Linked DNA regions of Homo sapiens: region 2 is linked to region 1. A link means that fine-mapping ties the variant in region 1 to the expression of a gene that starts in the linked region. Tissue or cell type: fibroblasts. Region 1 holds a variant in brackets; the other region holds the start of a gene. All regions are shown on one strand. Distances are from middle to middle.

Region 1 (7,634 bases):
GATGTTCTTTAATGGGTGGTTGTACAAGCAAACGGGTACATCAATACAATGGAATATTATTGAGCAACAAGAAGAAAACCACAGAACTGTGAAGACAGGGAGGGACCTTAATTGCATATTGCAAAGTGAAAGAAGCCAGTCTGAAAAGGCTGTGGTCAGTATTTCTGTAAATCTAAAACTGTTCTAAAAAAAATGTGTATTCATTTTGTAAGAAGTTTTAAAAAAAGGGGAAAAAACCCAGAAACTTTATGAGGAAGTTATAGACTTTCCGAAACAGCATTAGATTGTCCCAGGGCTTGGAACTGGAGTTTGAGTCAGTCTTGCTCAACTCCCAGGTGGCTTCTAATTCACACCACAACCTTCTGAGACTAAGCGTTGGCTTTAATGCCCAGTTGTAAATAAAAGTCTGGAAGTCTGGTTACTGCACGCCTTTTCACCCAAGAAGTCCTCCAGACGACTTCCTTCCAGCTTTCTCAAATTCAGGGCTAAGTTGTAATTGTCAATAGATTTTACAAGTCCATACCTAGTTCTGCCTTGACCATACACTCACAAGCTCATCACTAGTGGTGCAGACTGCACAGTGCTTCCTAAGGCCATTCTCCACCTGCCCATTCCGTTCCCAGCATGCATTGTGCCTGTACCACTTCCTGAAAGTCTCAGTCTCCTTGCTCTTTCACCAAAAGTTCATTTATCTGTTTTTTTTTTGTCAACCTGAAATACTTTAAAGTGTAACATACAAACTGTAAAATACAGAATTTTTTTCAATGTTTATAGACATATAGGCATAATTTATATTATTCTTTGTGAGAAAGAGTCTTGCTCTGTTGCCCAGGGTGGAGCACAGTGGTGCAATCAAGGCTCACTGCAGCCTCAACCTCCTGTGCTCAAGGGATTCTCCCATCTCAGCCTCTTGAGTAGCTGGGATTACAGGCATGCACCACCATGCCCAGTAAATTTTTTTTTATTTTTTATTTTTTGCAGAGACAGGGCTTTGCTATGTTGCCCAGGCTATTCTTGAACTCCTGAGCTCAAGTCATCCTCAAGCCTCAACCTCTCAAAGTGCTGGGATTACAGGCACGAGCCACAGTGCCTGGACAATTTATATTCTTTATATGTAATCTTAAATGCATTCATTCATCTCAATGAATTTTTACAAATGAATAAACTCCTGTAACTATCACCAAACTCAAGATACAGCACGACCAGCATTCTGGTTTTTTTTTTTTTTTTAACTTGCCAGATGGAGATAGAATGTATCTTTCTCATCTCTGTTGTTTTAAGTTTTATGCACATTTCCAATGCAGTCCCAGCATTTTCAGCGCTCCATGTCTTGACTCACTGGCGTCCATTTTAAATGTTTCCTGCTTGCTGCCTGCATTGATTCAATGTTGCTTTTTACCAAAACAGAGGAACTATAGTAAACTTCTTCAACTTAGAGCCTTCTACTAAGGGGGCTGAATTTATTAGATTGGTGCAAAAGTAATCGCAGTTTTTGCACCAACCTAAGAATTTTATGATCATGATTGCCACATGGTTTAACTTCAAAGCAATTCTGTGCTTTTTGCAGAGGGGAGCTGAGGCTTCGTGGAGTTGAAGGTGAATTTCCCAGGCAGGCGGGAGAGACTGTACTGAGAGGGCTCCCAGGGAACCCAGCTGCATTCAGCCCAGCACTGTCAGCAGTGGAAGGACTTACCTGACCACCCACAGGGGCTTGCCTTCCACAGGCATGTTCTCACACTCCAGCCCGCGTCAGACTCACCTACAAGGCTCTTCATAGCACAGGCTTCTGGGCCCTATCCCCAGGGTTTCTGATGCAGTAGGTCGTAGGGTCTCAGATTTTGCATAGTTAACAGGTCCCCGGGTGACGCTGGTACTGCCTTTGGGGGACCCCACTCTGAGAACCGCTGTGTTGCAGCAAGCTGGGTCCCAGCAGCGATGTAGGGAGGGGCAGGCTGTGCTAAGCCTCAGCTAACAGAGCGGCCGTCCACGGCTCCTTCTGTCTGAGGTCCCTACTGAGGAGGGAAGGAATTCTTCCCAGAACTCAGCAACCCAGGAGCTTTCCAGGGCTCTGGGTACCTCTTCCTGATCCGTGGTTCTGGAAGACTTGGGGTAAGAAAAGTGCCTAGGCCGCGAGGTCCTAAGGCGTCTTTATGGAGACATTGCCTGGGATCATGGCCAAGGCTCAGGCTTCAGGGGCAGGAGCTCCAGGCTGGCCATGCACTAGTTATTGACCGGGCAGGGGCAGGAGCAGTGCTAGCATGGTGCCTGGCACAGAGCAGCTGTCATACTTTGCACACGTTTTGGCAGATTTTTCTTAGATGGTGGTATGGGGGTCGTTGAAGGAGCCCTCTTGTGTGCTAAACTGGGCTTGGACCACCTCAGCTCTCCTGAAAAATGGGCAGGGACTGGGAGCCTCATGGGTGTCATACTAAGTCTGACCCAATGACTGAGACAGAGTAAACAAGGGGTGGTCTCTCTGCCCCCTGAGTTCACCCTGTTACTAAGACCCTCGTCATATTGAATTTCAACGGCCTGGTCACCCATGAAGTTCTTCAGCTGGACCGGGGTTTCTCAATCTCGACACTGTTGACACTTGGGCCTGTATAATCCTTTGCTCTGGGGGCAGGGCTGTCCTGTGCATTATAGCGTGTTTAGCGGTATCCCTGGTCTCTACCTACTAGATGCCAGCAGCAGCTCCCTGACATCAAATCACAACAGCCAGAAATGTCTCTAGACGATATCCAGTGTCTCCTAGGGGCAGAACAGCTCCAACTGGTAACTGCTGAGTTACACTGGGAGCTCCCAGGAGGGAGGAACCACACCTTCCATCCCTGCACCTCCAGGACTAGCACACAGTAGGGGCTCACTAAGGGGACATCGAATGTATCCAACCTGCCTGGTCAGATATTCAGCATTTCATGCTCATTATGACATTTGAGTCTCAAAACCACCCGTGAGGAAGACTCATGTGAGAGATGAGGAAACCGAGGCACTGCAGGTGGGACCACTTGCTCAAGATTTCCTGGCTAATTAGCAACGGAGGCAGGACTTGAACTCCATGCTCTGTGCCTGACTGATTGGCCCTAAGACCAGGGTGACACCCTCTGTCCTACTGGCTTGCTTCCTCAGCACAACACCCTCTGTCCCACTGGCTTCCACAGCACAGGAAAGGAGCTCATGCCTGTGTCTGGACTCATGGCCTCAGGCAGGTCCCAATTTCTTTGTCCTTCCCCGCAGTCTCTCCACGGGGCACTTTGAATTCTGCCAGGCACAGCCTCCCAAGTTCACGTTGCTTTTTGAGGAATGACTTCAGCACTAAAACATGTTTCACATTTAAGGTTAGGCAGGCCCTGCTTACAGCGGGAGCTTACAAGATCTCCAGCCCTTCTGGGGAAGGATATAAAAGGCTGACTTGAATGTTATGAAAGCTTAGGAAAAAAGGAATGCTAATGATCATACAAAAATAGAATGCCAAAGGAAGCTATTGCCAAACTGAAACAGGACTCAGATTCTGGGATAATGGACACATGAATCACAGCAAAGGGAAAAAAAAGTGAACTGGCGTTTCCCCTTTCATCGAAGTACTGATGATCATAAGATAAATCATGTTTGGAGAAGAATCAGAATGATTGGATTAAGTTTTACTGCAGTGTTTCTGACTAATCTTGGACCCAGGCAACCTAATTGAAAACTTACATCTGCACGGAGCTGGAGAGTTTGAACTCTCCAGCTTTAGTAACTCACCGCTGCAAGGCAGGCCCAGGCCCGGGAGTGCCTTCCTCCAC[A/G]TAACTGCATCGTTCTGAAGACACAGATCCAAAAACTCGATTTTCCCACTATGATTTTACCCAGAAACTTCTCTGAATTCGTAGATTACAATCAGATAATGGTCCATGACGTGAGCATCCCTTTGCCTGGCAGGCTGAAAGTCAAGATAGCCCTAGCTCCAAGCAAGCATTCCTTTTTTTTTTTAATGAGAGAAAAGAGGCAACAATTTTTAAGTGACCTTGCTGTTTGCTTTTGTGAAGTGAAGTGATCTCCCCACTGCTGCGATTTTAATAAGCCCGCAAGTTCTCCTAGGTGCCCTCCAGGGAGGAATTTCATTGTTCATCTGCACTCAATGTTCCAGAAATACCCTGCACCCATGAGCAAATCCTAACATGACTTCCAACTTGGGAGTGGAATTTGCCAAATAAATGAGCTGTTCTAACTGAATGTCCCGGGCCAAGGCTGGCTCCTGTGACGATGCTCTCTGCTGGGTCTACAGGCGGACCCTGTGGTTGACAGGCTCCCAGATGTGCACCCCTGGGCTGAGCTCTGCAGCCCAATGCCCCTCCCATCCACTGAACAGACCTGGACCATTCCAGAGGGGCCAGCTTCCCTCTGTGACCCCCAGCCTCATGCTTCCAAAGGAGGGCAGGAGATGACAGCGTGTGGGGGCACAAGGGTAGAGAGCAGACAAAACAAGAGCTCACTGAGAAATGAGGCAGAGGTGTTGTGCAGGTGCCAAGGGCCTGGGTTTTTGACTCCTACAGAGCTGGGTAGGAACCCTGGTTCTTGTCTTTCCCAGCTGTGACACCCTCAGCAAGTTACGAAAACCATGCAACCTCCAGATATCTCATCCATAAACCGGGTGTTGTCATGAGAATGGAATAACACGATGTGCTTAGTAAAATGGAATGTCAATTACATCCACATCCCTGAACAAATGAGTCCACGAAAAGCATGGTGCAAGTGGAATCTATAGTCACGTGTAAGTCTTGTTATATGCAAAAGCATTACTCCTTGCTGGGAGTCTCTCTCCACAGGACTCGATGTGCCACACAGACAGAAACAGTCCCCGTTGCCTTGTCCTTTGCACCTAATGTCACACCGACACGGAGGAGATACTCGGTAAACATTTGTTAAGGAAAGAAGAGCTTGGCACGGGTTCCCTTTTTCTTCCACCTCAACCCCAGTGCTATCCTCAGGGACCCCTCATTCCCACCTTGCTCTGCACACATCTCACCTGGCCCTGGCCCTGTGCCCTCCTGACACCTATTTGGAACATTTCCCCAACAAACTTGGTATTCCAGACTCAGAAACCGGCTGTCGGCATTGGTCCTGCCACTGTCTGCCTGCCTGCTTCCGGGCATATTGCTTCACTGCTCAGAGCCTCAGTGTCCTCGTTTGCTCTTCCATGAGACAGTCATAGTGCGGGTTTGCAGCAGACCTATGGCTCTTGAACTGTACTCCACAAAATCCCACGTGTTTCTCCCGCCAGAACCTCTGGAGGCCTCATCTCTGGGACCCCACCCTTCACATTAGCCAAGGCACCCTACTTTTTCAGTGAGCAGCTGCTGAGAAAGATATTGCTTCATTTCTAGGTGAAGTTTCGTCCCTCTGGACTGAGAGGTTCCTCCTCAATTCTATCTGTGCTGCACAGGGCCCAATTTGGGACCATGAGGGATATGAGATGTCCCAGAACGAGACCATTACTTCTTTCAGGACAAGAGGTTAATTCAGCAATGGGGAACCCTGCTCTCTGTGAAAGGCTTCCCCACATCCAGAAGCCGGCCAGGCTCATGTTTCCTTGGGTAGCGAGACCTCCAGAGAGTTTGGGTCTTTCCTACAGGACACAGGCACATGCAGAGATGCTGGTCTGTTCTAAACTACCCATTCTAGGCCAGGCATAGTGGCTCATGCCTGTAATCCTAGCACTTTGGGAGGCTGAGGCGGGAGGATCACTTGAGGCCAGGAATTTGAGACCAGCCTGTGCAATGTAGTGAGACTCCCATCTCTACAAAAAAAGAAAAGAAAAGAAAAAAGTAGCCAGAAGTGCTGGTGTGCACCAGTAGTTCCAGCTACTCAGAAGGCTGAGGCAGGAGGATGGCTTGAGCCCAGGAGTTTCAGGTTACAATGAGCTATGATGGTGCCACTGCTCTCCAGCATGGGTTGCAAAGTGAGATCCACTCTCAAAAAAAGCAAATAAATAATTTGAAAACATATTAAACTTTCCTTTCAAAACATTCACCATCTCCTGAACTTTGTCTTCACCACTGCCCTAGAACACCTTGCCTACTTCTCAGACAGAATGAGCACCGTCTTGCCCACCCTCTTGCCCACACTTCCTGTCAAGCCTTACACTATCCCCAGCAGCACCACTGACTTCATCACAAAATTGAGTGGCCACACGCCTTAGACCATGCAGGCTACCATAATAAAATACCACAGACTGAATATTTATAAACAACAAAAATTGATTTCTCACAGTTCTGGGGGCTGGGAAGTCCAAAGTCAAGATGGATTTGGTGTCTAGTGAGGGCCCACTTTCTGGCTCACAGATAGCACCATCTTGCTGTGTCCTTACTGGGTGGGTGGGACCAGCTAGCTCTCTGGGGTCTGTTTTATAAGGGCACTAATGCCACTCATGAGGGTTCTACCTTCCTGAGGCAATCACCTCCCAAGGCTGCTCTTTCTAATACCATCGCATTGGATATTAGGCTGCAACATGAAACCTACATTCAGACCACATAGATCTGGTCAATATGGAGATGGTTTTAGACTGTTTATCACTTACACTAACGGCATAAGCAACATCATCATAATGTCAGCTTTCCACATCCCTAGGATGACACCAAATTGGAGAAGCCAGATGACAGACATGAGGAGTGGGTTGCTCCATTGGGATATCTCACTCTAAAATACAACCAAGCACCTTTATAGCTGGAGCTATGCCCTAAGGGGGGCATGTGGAAAGTTTTACTTCTCACTGGAACCAGGGAAGTGGATAAGACAGTGTCTTGTGGCAGCCCCTCACAAGACAGGGAGCCTCCTATAGGACAGGGAAGTGGATGGAAAATGACCTACAGATGACCCTTACGAGACTGCCCTGCTTGCTGAATCCCAGGAAGGATCACAGAGTGTTCTGCCAAGACATGGGTCCGACTGAGGCTGAGACTCACCTACGCAGAGACGCCCAAGAGCTCCATGGGGGAGCCTTTCCCTACTCTGTCCTCCTACCTTCCTTCTCATTGAGGACAAGGTGTCTGTCCTCTTGTCTAAGGAGAAACTCACCCTTAGAACCTTGGATTTACTAAAACTCTCATTGAAAACCTATTTAATCAATGATCATCCTCTCTTCTGAATCTCCTTCCTACCCAGCCCCTTAGCCACACCTACCTTAAAAAGCACATAATCCACCAAAACATATACCTCTAAGTCTCCCCTGGCTCCTGATCCTCTCTGGTCCTTTCTGAGTGAACTCTCTGACCATCCCCTGAGTGAATCCATTCACACCGCAGGCTCCAGCTGCCCTCTTTTTGCTGGAAATGCCTAACCTGACTCCCGCCCCGTCCTCCTCCAAGCTGCTGCCATGGAACTCTTGCTGATGGAGTTTATCCACCTGAATGCCAGAAAGGCATCTCAGATCCCATGAGTCTGTGCAACAGCCGCGTCTCTGTCCCTTGAGCCTGCTGCTCTTCCTGCCTACACCTCCAAGAGCACGCTTACAGAAGCCAGAAATTCGGCAGGCAGCCTAGACATTCTTCTCTTGTAGCCCTGACATCCAGTATTTATTTAGGGCTACGCTTTGTTAATTCTTAAACATATCTCTTTTTCCCCCTGTACTTCCCTTTAGTATCACCATAGTTTTTGCA
Region 2 (7,634 bases), 120 kb before region 1:
CAGCCTTTAAAATTGGCTTATTAAAATATTTGTTTTTTTTAAAGCCCAGATTTAAACTAAAGTTATGAGTTATAGTGCTCTGCTCAGAAAGAGTTTACTTTATGTGTGTGGTGTTTTTTTTTCTTTTTTTAAATTTTTTTGCCAGGCAAAAGGAATCCGGCATCTGTGCCGTCTACCCAGAACAGAGTGAAGCAAGGATGACAAGAACATGGTTCAGCTCAAGATCTGTATGAAAATATGAGTTTCAGGAAACCTCAGTGAAGTATTCTATCTCAAATGGCCTCAAAGAGCCACTGAAGTCTGAGGAATTCCCTCTCCAGCAAGATGAGTAGCAAGACTTCCCTGATGCAAGGCCGAAAGGACTGCTGATATTTAAGGGGAAAGACCCACATTAACAGGTCAAATCCCTACATCAGATCTTATTGATGGGTATTTTGTAACCAAACATTGCTTATATTCCAGGGAGCTCAGCCTTTCATTCTACTTCTTCTAGGCAAGCAAAAGCTCCATTGGGATTCTGCATTTCTGTTCTTCTCCACGAAGAACTGATTTTCTAGCATCCTGAATACAGCAGTTAACAAACACCTATGAGAAGTAAATTTTCAGGAGGGAGGAAAAGGCTCACATATATTAGATGGTGAAGGGGTCATGCAATTTCTTCAAAGTAGCTAAAAGTTCTCAGAAAAAAAAAAGTTTGTTGAGTGAGGAAATCTACTGAAAATCTGTGCACACTATGCAGAAGTTAGAGAAGATGTTTTCTTTAACCACACAGCAGGGAACAGGACAAATGTCTGATAAGTAATGGTCACCTTCCCCCACCCTCCAAGCCAGGTGTCTGGGACCCTGCTCCGAAGACTCAGGCATTTAATGAGAATACTAAAAAAATCCTTTTGAGATTTTTCTATTAGATGAATCCAACTGACTGGACAAAGACACCTGATTTATTGTCTAATTGTGCTTTTAAATACCAGGCCAAAGAAGAAAGGCAGGATAGATATCGGCAGCACCCGCACTCCACCATCTCTTGCGTTTCTCTTCCTTTCAGAGGACAATTTAGGCTTTGTGCTGCTGTTGCTGTTAGTCTTGACAGTTTTCTTCACATACGTGAAAACATCCCACATCAAACATTAAAATCACTTACAATGTACTGAAATGTCTAGAGATTCTTTGCTGATGCATATAATTAATGCTTCTTAGAAATGCTACAAATAAAAACAAATGCTGTTTAGCAACATTTTCAGGAAATCAAACCAATTATAATCGTATTGATCTTATAGGGAATAATGAGTTAAAGACAAAAAGAATGACAAGATGTCTGCCTAACGTGCCTGATAAATAAAAACAAGGTGTGTCCAGAATCATTCATGGATAAAATTTTTCCATATTTCTTTTCTCTTCTTTTAGAGTATCTATTTAATGAAACTAGCTTGTTTGAACTACTCAGTTATAGTCCAGTATGTAAAAATAAAAATAAATAGGCTCCTTATAGATCATCAGCTCTCCCACTAACTGTGTAATTATCTATTATATTTTCAAGGGCTTTTTTCCAAACAAGCTCTTGGCACTGTTTTTATTTATTTATTACATGTATTGCATTTTATTTTTCTATAATCTTTAATGGTTACCTATGGCTGATTCTCTAAGTTTTGAGGAGTGCGATTATTTTTAAATGAATTTTAAATGTTCCTACTAAATTCTAGCAGCATCATATCTACTGGTATTTGTTTTCAGTAATTTTCTGGAGGGCAGTCTTAACGATAATTAAAGTGACATTTTCCTTAAACACGGCTCAATGTGTGTGTTTTTAAAAAGATGACATTCCTCATCTGTTTGTTCTTATTTCAGATGTGCTATAAACCATGAATGAGGTAAAGCATAAATGGAAGTAACTAATGGAAGCTCATTATTTAGGCAGCAAAAACCAGAATTAATGTATTACCCCACTGTAGCGTTTAGTACTCAGCCAATCCAAACTTTCCTAGAGAAATATGTGATTGAGACACTTTCCATCTGTTTTTGACAAAGACAGGAGAAGATTCCCACAAGTTATTTTCTGCTGAAAATTATTTTTTAAAAACTATACAATTATCATTATCTCAGGAGGCTCTGCAGCTACAGAATTTTCAGTGACACCAAAATAAAAGCTAAAAAAATGAAATAAAACCCACCTGTGCTGGATCAGCTTTTCGTGGCCTCAGCAACAACATTCGCAGATATTATAGAACCACATAAAAAAAGAAATAGATATGTTTGGGAGAATAGGCGGCCGGGTGCTCTTGATTAATCTAAATTCCTTCTGTGTGAAGTAGAGTCTTTTATAAAAACATCGCAAGATGTGCGAGGAACTAAAACATACTAAGGGGGAAGGATTTTTAACTCGGCCCCAGCAAAAAGAACTCTGTGCCCCTCCATGGCCCTGGATGGCGGATGAGAGAGGGGCTCGCCTGCTCACAGAGCCTAAGGACGGCGCCTCCGTGGCTCGAGCTTGTCTAAAGGGACTTGGAAGGTGTCTGGTGAAAAGGACCCGGTGCAGGACGCCCTAATCGCTCTTCCAGAGGAAACCAGAACTTGGAGTGCTCCTGGCAGCTGTGTCCCCCGAGCCTTCTCCTCGCGCAGGGCCCGGCGCGCACAGCCTCCCTGTCCCCCAGACCCGTTTCCCAGCCTGGACCCCTCGCCCATCCCTGCGGGGCTGGATGGGCGGGGCCCCTCCCGGGTACTCCAGGGTCAAGGTTGGGACTCAGGGCTCCCAGTTCCTAGGTCAGCTCCACCTGCCTGCGGGCGCCCTGGGGCTCCGCGCGGCTGCGTCGGACCCGCCTGCCTCAGCGCTCCAGGCTCTGCGCTCTCGGCCCAGGGCCCTTCTCGGGCACACCCGGCCCTGTGGCTGCTCTGGCCCCGAAGCGCAGGGCAGTTTCCTCCCGTCCTCCCCAGGCAAACCCTGGAGCCGCAGGCCCGCACCTCTACGCCCACTGGGCAGGCCAGGGCGCCGACGGCCGGGGACCCCAGGCGCGAGCAGCTGGGTAGATCTGAGTGTCCGCCCGACGGACGCGCTCTACCCTTGCCCAGGAAGAAAGCGAAGCCATTCGCCCGGCAACACCCGGCTCGGGCAGCTTCGCGGGCGGCCTGCGCTGCGGCGGACGCAAAGGGCAGCTGGTCCTCATATCCCAGTCCCCAGCCGGCCCCAGGAGGTTTTTCTGATGCTCGCTCCTTCCACCGCCAACCACGGACACCCACACACCACCGAGAATGAAAACTGCGACCATCTGTCTAAGTATCTTCAGAACCCGCCGGGGGAGTCACCGGTCCGCCGGTTCCCAACTGACACCCTCGCGTGGAAGTCTGCACTCAGGGGTGTCCCTGGGACTGTGAGCGTCCCGCCCGCCCGCCTTCCTTGCTAAGAGGAAAAGCGCACGGCATCCAAGCCCCCGCGGCCCGCGGGGCCTCGCCGAGGAGACACGAGCAGGCCCCAATGCCCCTGCGCCCCTGCCGCCCGCCCCCCGCAGCGGAGGGCGCCCGTCGCGCGCGCAGCACCTACCCTGGCGCGCCGGTCCGGAGGTGGGTGGCGCGGCGCTAGTGGGAGGCGGACATGGACCACGCGCCCTCCATGCGCCACACGGAGAAGGCGTAGCTGAGGCGCTCGTGGGCCACGTAGCTGCAGCTGGTCATCTTATTGTCCATCTCGTCGCTCTGCAGGACCTGGTAGAGGAAGTCTATGTACCTGGCGGCCAGCTTGAGCGTCTGGATCTTGCTCAGCTTGTCAGAGGGCAGCGTGGGGATGATCTTGCGCAGCGCCGCGAAGGCCTCGTTGAGCGACTGGGTGCGCTGGCGCTCGCGCACGTTGGCCAGGATGCGCTGGCTCTGCAGCTCCTCGAAGGACTGCGCGCTGGGGCTGCCCTTCTTGCCGCGCTTGCCCGGGGTCGGGCTGCCATCTTCGCTCGACTTCTTGCTGTAGCGCCGCTTCCGGCCGAAGCGCTTGGGCTGCCTCTCGAGCTCCTCCTCGCTGGTGCCCAGGCTGTCCACGGGGGACACGGGCGAGCTGGAGCCCTCCTCCATGGCGCCCGCCCGGCGCGCGTGGGGCTGGGGGCGCCGGGGCGCCGAGCGCGCGCCGCTGGCCAAGCCCGCGGTCGCCGAGCACACGCTCTCGGAGTTGCTGGAAAGGCTCTGATTTCAAGGCCGGCTTGTGCAAAACCGAGGTCTCCGGGAGAGGAAGTTATTCTAACTTTTTTGGAAACTCTAGCTGGGCTGGGTTGCTAAATAGTTGTCAGGAGCTAGGGCGGCGCGCTGATTGGCCGCGGTGGCCGGGGGCAGGACAAGTTCTGGGGCCTTCGCCGGCCGCCCCCGCCCCCCGGCGCGGCACTTTCAGTTTTGCCTCCCCCTTCGGCCCCGGCGCGGAGGGCATCCCGGGGGCCGGGTCCTCGCCCGCCGCCCGCGCCCCCACCCCGAACGCAGGGCACTCTCAGGCCGCCCCGAGCCCTAGGCCCGGCCAAGCCTGGCTTTGTCTACGCCTCAACGTAGAGATCGGCCCCCACTGGGCTTTGGGGGGTTCTCTCTCTGGGCGTGAGGGGCTAGAGAGGCGAGTCCAGTCCCAGATGCGCTCCCAGAAGATGAGGACGCAGCCAGGAGCCTCCTCGACCTGTGTGGGTCTTGGCCGCCCCCGGGCGCACAGCTAGTCTGCACCGCGGCCCGCAAGCTTAGGCCTGGGGTCTGGGGAGCTGCGCGGGCAGGGGTCTCGGTGTCCGGACCGCCAGTGTAAGGACAGTCGGGGCCCCCTGGAGACGCCCGTGCCCAAGGACATGCCGCCAAGATCCGTGGAGATGCCACCCTTCGGCCAGCGTGCGTGTCGGGGACCATTTCTTACCCTGGCTTGCTGGGGAGCCCCGGCCCCGACGCCCTTCCCGAACCTTCCTTCTAACAGCTTTAAAACAACGCCACAGCGAGCCTCTGCGGGAGCGCCCGGTACCCGCCGCGCCCGCCTGCCTGGCCCTACCCGGGTTGCTGGGCGCGGGTTGGGGCGCCTGCCGGCCCGCCTTGTACGGCCCCAGCCTCTGCGCTCCGCCTTCGCTTCGCGGGTCAGCAGAGGACGGAGGGCGCTCCGGGAGCTGCACGAGGCTGCCCCGGGCCCAGCCTCCGCTGCGCTGGCAGCCCGCGGGCAGCTCCGAGCAGGAGGCTCAGGGTGGCTGGAGTGTGGGGCCCGGCCTCGGTGAGCGACACCACGGACCCCGGCCCCGGGCCATCTGGACGGCGAGCGCGAGCGCGTTTGAAGTGGTTGGGGGGCTCTTTGTTCGCCAGGCCGCTCTGGCTCTGGGCCTGGAGGTGGTTTTTACGGCTTTGATGCCTTTGAACCTATTCCCAGGTGACCCGGGCTCAATTAGGCCCGGGCCTGAGCCGGGCTGTCAGGCAAGCCGCGTGATCAAGGGCGGGCTGGGCCCTTTTATTGAAGTTGAACCCGAGACCGGGGAGTGCTCGGCCTCCGCTGCTCCTCCGGCCGGCCAGGCGGGCCGCGAGGTGGGGCCCGCGGGCCACGACCACCGCGTTGGGAAACCCGAGGACGGCAAAGAGCGGGCCCTTCGCGCCCCTGTCCGAGGGCCCTGGCTCCGGCCGTTCTAGGGGACGTTTTACCAACAATCCGTCCAGGAAGGCAGAACGCCTAGGAGCGGGCCCTCGCATGCATGTGAGTCGGTAGCAGCGCCCTGCGCAGTGTCCGCGCACCGGACCCGCGGCTTCAGTTCGGTGCCTAAAGGTTCTGCAGAGCCACCGCACCCAGCCCCACCCGGCCTGACCGCCCTCCTTCCTCCGCGCTGGGAAGGCCCACGGCCCCTCTAGCCCAACAAAATAGCTTTCCAGGTCCCTTTCTTTAAAATTCTCAAATAAAAATTTAAGGAACGAGAGAGAGAGAGAGAGAGAAGCCAGGTCCCCAGCCGTCCTGCCGGTGCTGGGCTGCAGCCCTTCCTGGGGCTTCACGTCAGATGGAAAGGGCCTGTTTTTCCCGAACTGGCCTTTCCCTGGTTTCTTTGCTCAGAGCAGTGACAGTAGCGATTTGCTGCCCTTTTACCAACCCTGTGTGGGTCCAAGGACCCAGATCCAGGGACATCTTCCCTTTCCCAGATGCGGAGGGCTTTTACTGAGGAGAGGACCTGCCTGGTAGCCTGCTTCGCCATCCTCGTCTCCCTGTCTGCGTGCCCCTGTGTCACTCTGGCTCTGTCGGCGTGTCTCTTTCTCTGTCCTTTCTGTCTCTTTCTCCAGCAGAGAGAGTTCATAGTTTAGTTTGAAAGAAAAACAGCTCAGCTTTGGTCCTGAGCAGCCCAGGGCTCAGCCCAGCCCTGAAGACCAGAGGCCCCGGGGACGCCCTGGAAGGGCAGCGCAAGCTGGATTGCAGGCTCACCTCTGCCTGGGGAGATGGACCTGGAGGATTTCACCTGCGACCCCCCGGGGCGCCCTGGAGCTATCATAACCAGCAGCCCAGTTCAACCGTCTGGATGCACTTTCTTCATGGCGTGTCTTGTCTATTTTAAAATGCTTTAACAATGATTATAGTACTGGAGGCTGTGATACTGACGGCTGCCTGCGGAAAACCTTGCTTAACAGAATTTGGAGTGACTTTCTTATGCTGTATTGCCAGCCCCTCAGAGTCATTACCTGGGCAGTGACCCCTTGCATACATAGGAGAAGCTAAGGCACAGTGGCATTTAGCAGCGTTTCCAATGTCACCTGTATGTTGGCTGGGGAAGTGACAGCATTCCCCTCTTTTGAGGAGGGGAATTTGCTGAATTAAAACCCAAATGAAAATGTCATCAATTTGGGAAATAATACTCAGGTTATTGATTTAGTTTGAGTTTTTCTTTCAAAAATTAAGTCAGTGATAAGGCTAATAAAGCCAATTTATTAATAGCATAAGTAATACAATATATCTCTGTGTGAATACTCTTTGCAGGACCACCCAGGCTCACTTGGACTTCAGTAAAATATCACGCAACAAAGATTCACAGAAGTAAATACAGTTCTTGGGGTACTTATTCATTACTGAGTATGGAAAATCCTGTGAATGCTTCCTTTCATATATGTAAAAAAGTGTGCTTTGTTTCATGTGACTTTGTGTTTTTTAAAAAAAAATGAACTGGTGTTCTGAAAGATTCTTCTATTGCACATTTTCCTTAGGGCAGCAAGTAACAGAAGGTGATATGTTTTCACAGCAAATTTGCCAGCTATTAGATTGGCTTTAATCTTGCTGCAGTAGAATGACACTGCAGGGATTGTCACCTGGGGATAGTCTTCAAGAATAGCAGCCAGGCACGGTGGCTCGCGCCTGTAATCCCCCAACTCTTTGGGAGGCCAAGGCAGGTGGATCACCTGAGGTTGGGAGGTCGAGACCAGCCTGGCCAACATAGTGAAAGCCCATTTGTACTAAAAATACAAAAATTAGCTGGGTGTGGTGGTGCATGCCTGTAATTTCAGCTACTCGGGAGGCTGAGGCAGGATAATCGCTTGAACCCAGGAGGCGGAGGTTGCAGTGAGCCAAGATCATGCCACTGCACTCCAGCCTGGACGATAGAGCAAGACTGTGTCAAAAAAAAAAAAAAAGAAAGAAAAGAAAGAAAAAAGAATACGACGCAATTATACAGCCCCTGGGCTTTCTTAGG

What was found. PIP is the estimated chance that this variant, and not a neighbour inherited with it, causes the effect.
Region 2: TWIST2 starts here. The variant in region 1 is fine-mapped to the expression of TWIST2 in fibroblasts (GTEx, PIP 0.98).

The regions. Positions count from the first base shown.
Region 1 is chr2:238,724,739-238,732,372 of GRCh38, reverse strand. The region is part of intron 1 of LINC01937 (long intergenic non-protein coding RNA 1937); the gene reads right to left. Among named protein-coding and RNA genes, the nearest start is that of LINC01937, 8.6 kb to the right of the region's middle. RefSeq lists an enhancer at 1,410-1,909. The variant A/G (reference allele first, on the strand shown) is at 3,786.
Region 2 is chr2:238,844,632-238,852,265 of GRCh38, reverse strand. TWIST2 (twist family bHLH transcription factor 2) reads right to left here and starts at 4,181. Exons shown (of 2, transcript NM_001271893.4): 1 at 3,533-4,181. The coding sequence starts at 4,050. The coding sequence ends at 3,568. It overlaps LOC100287387 (a long non-coding RNA gene), which reads left to right and starts at 4,359. Exons shown (of 1, transcript NR_157851.1): 1 at 4,359-7,634. RefSeq lists enhancers at 2,670-3,180, 3,181-3,690, 5,224-5,734, 5,735-6,245.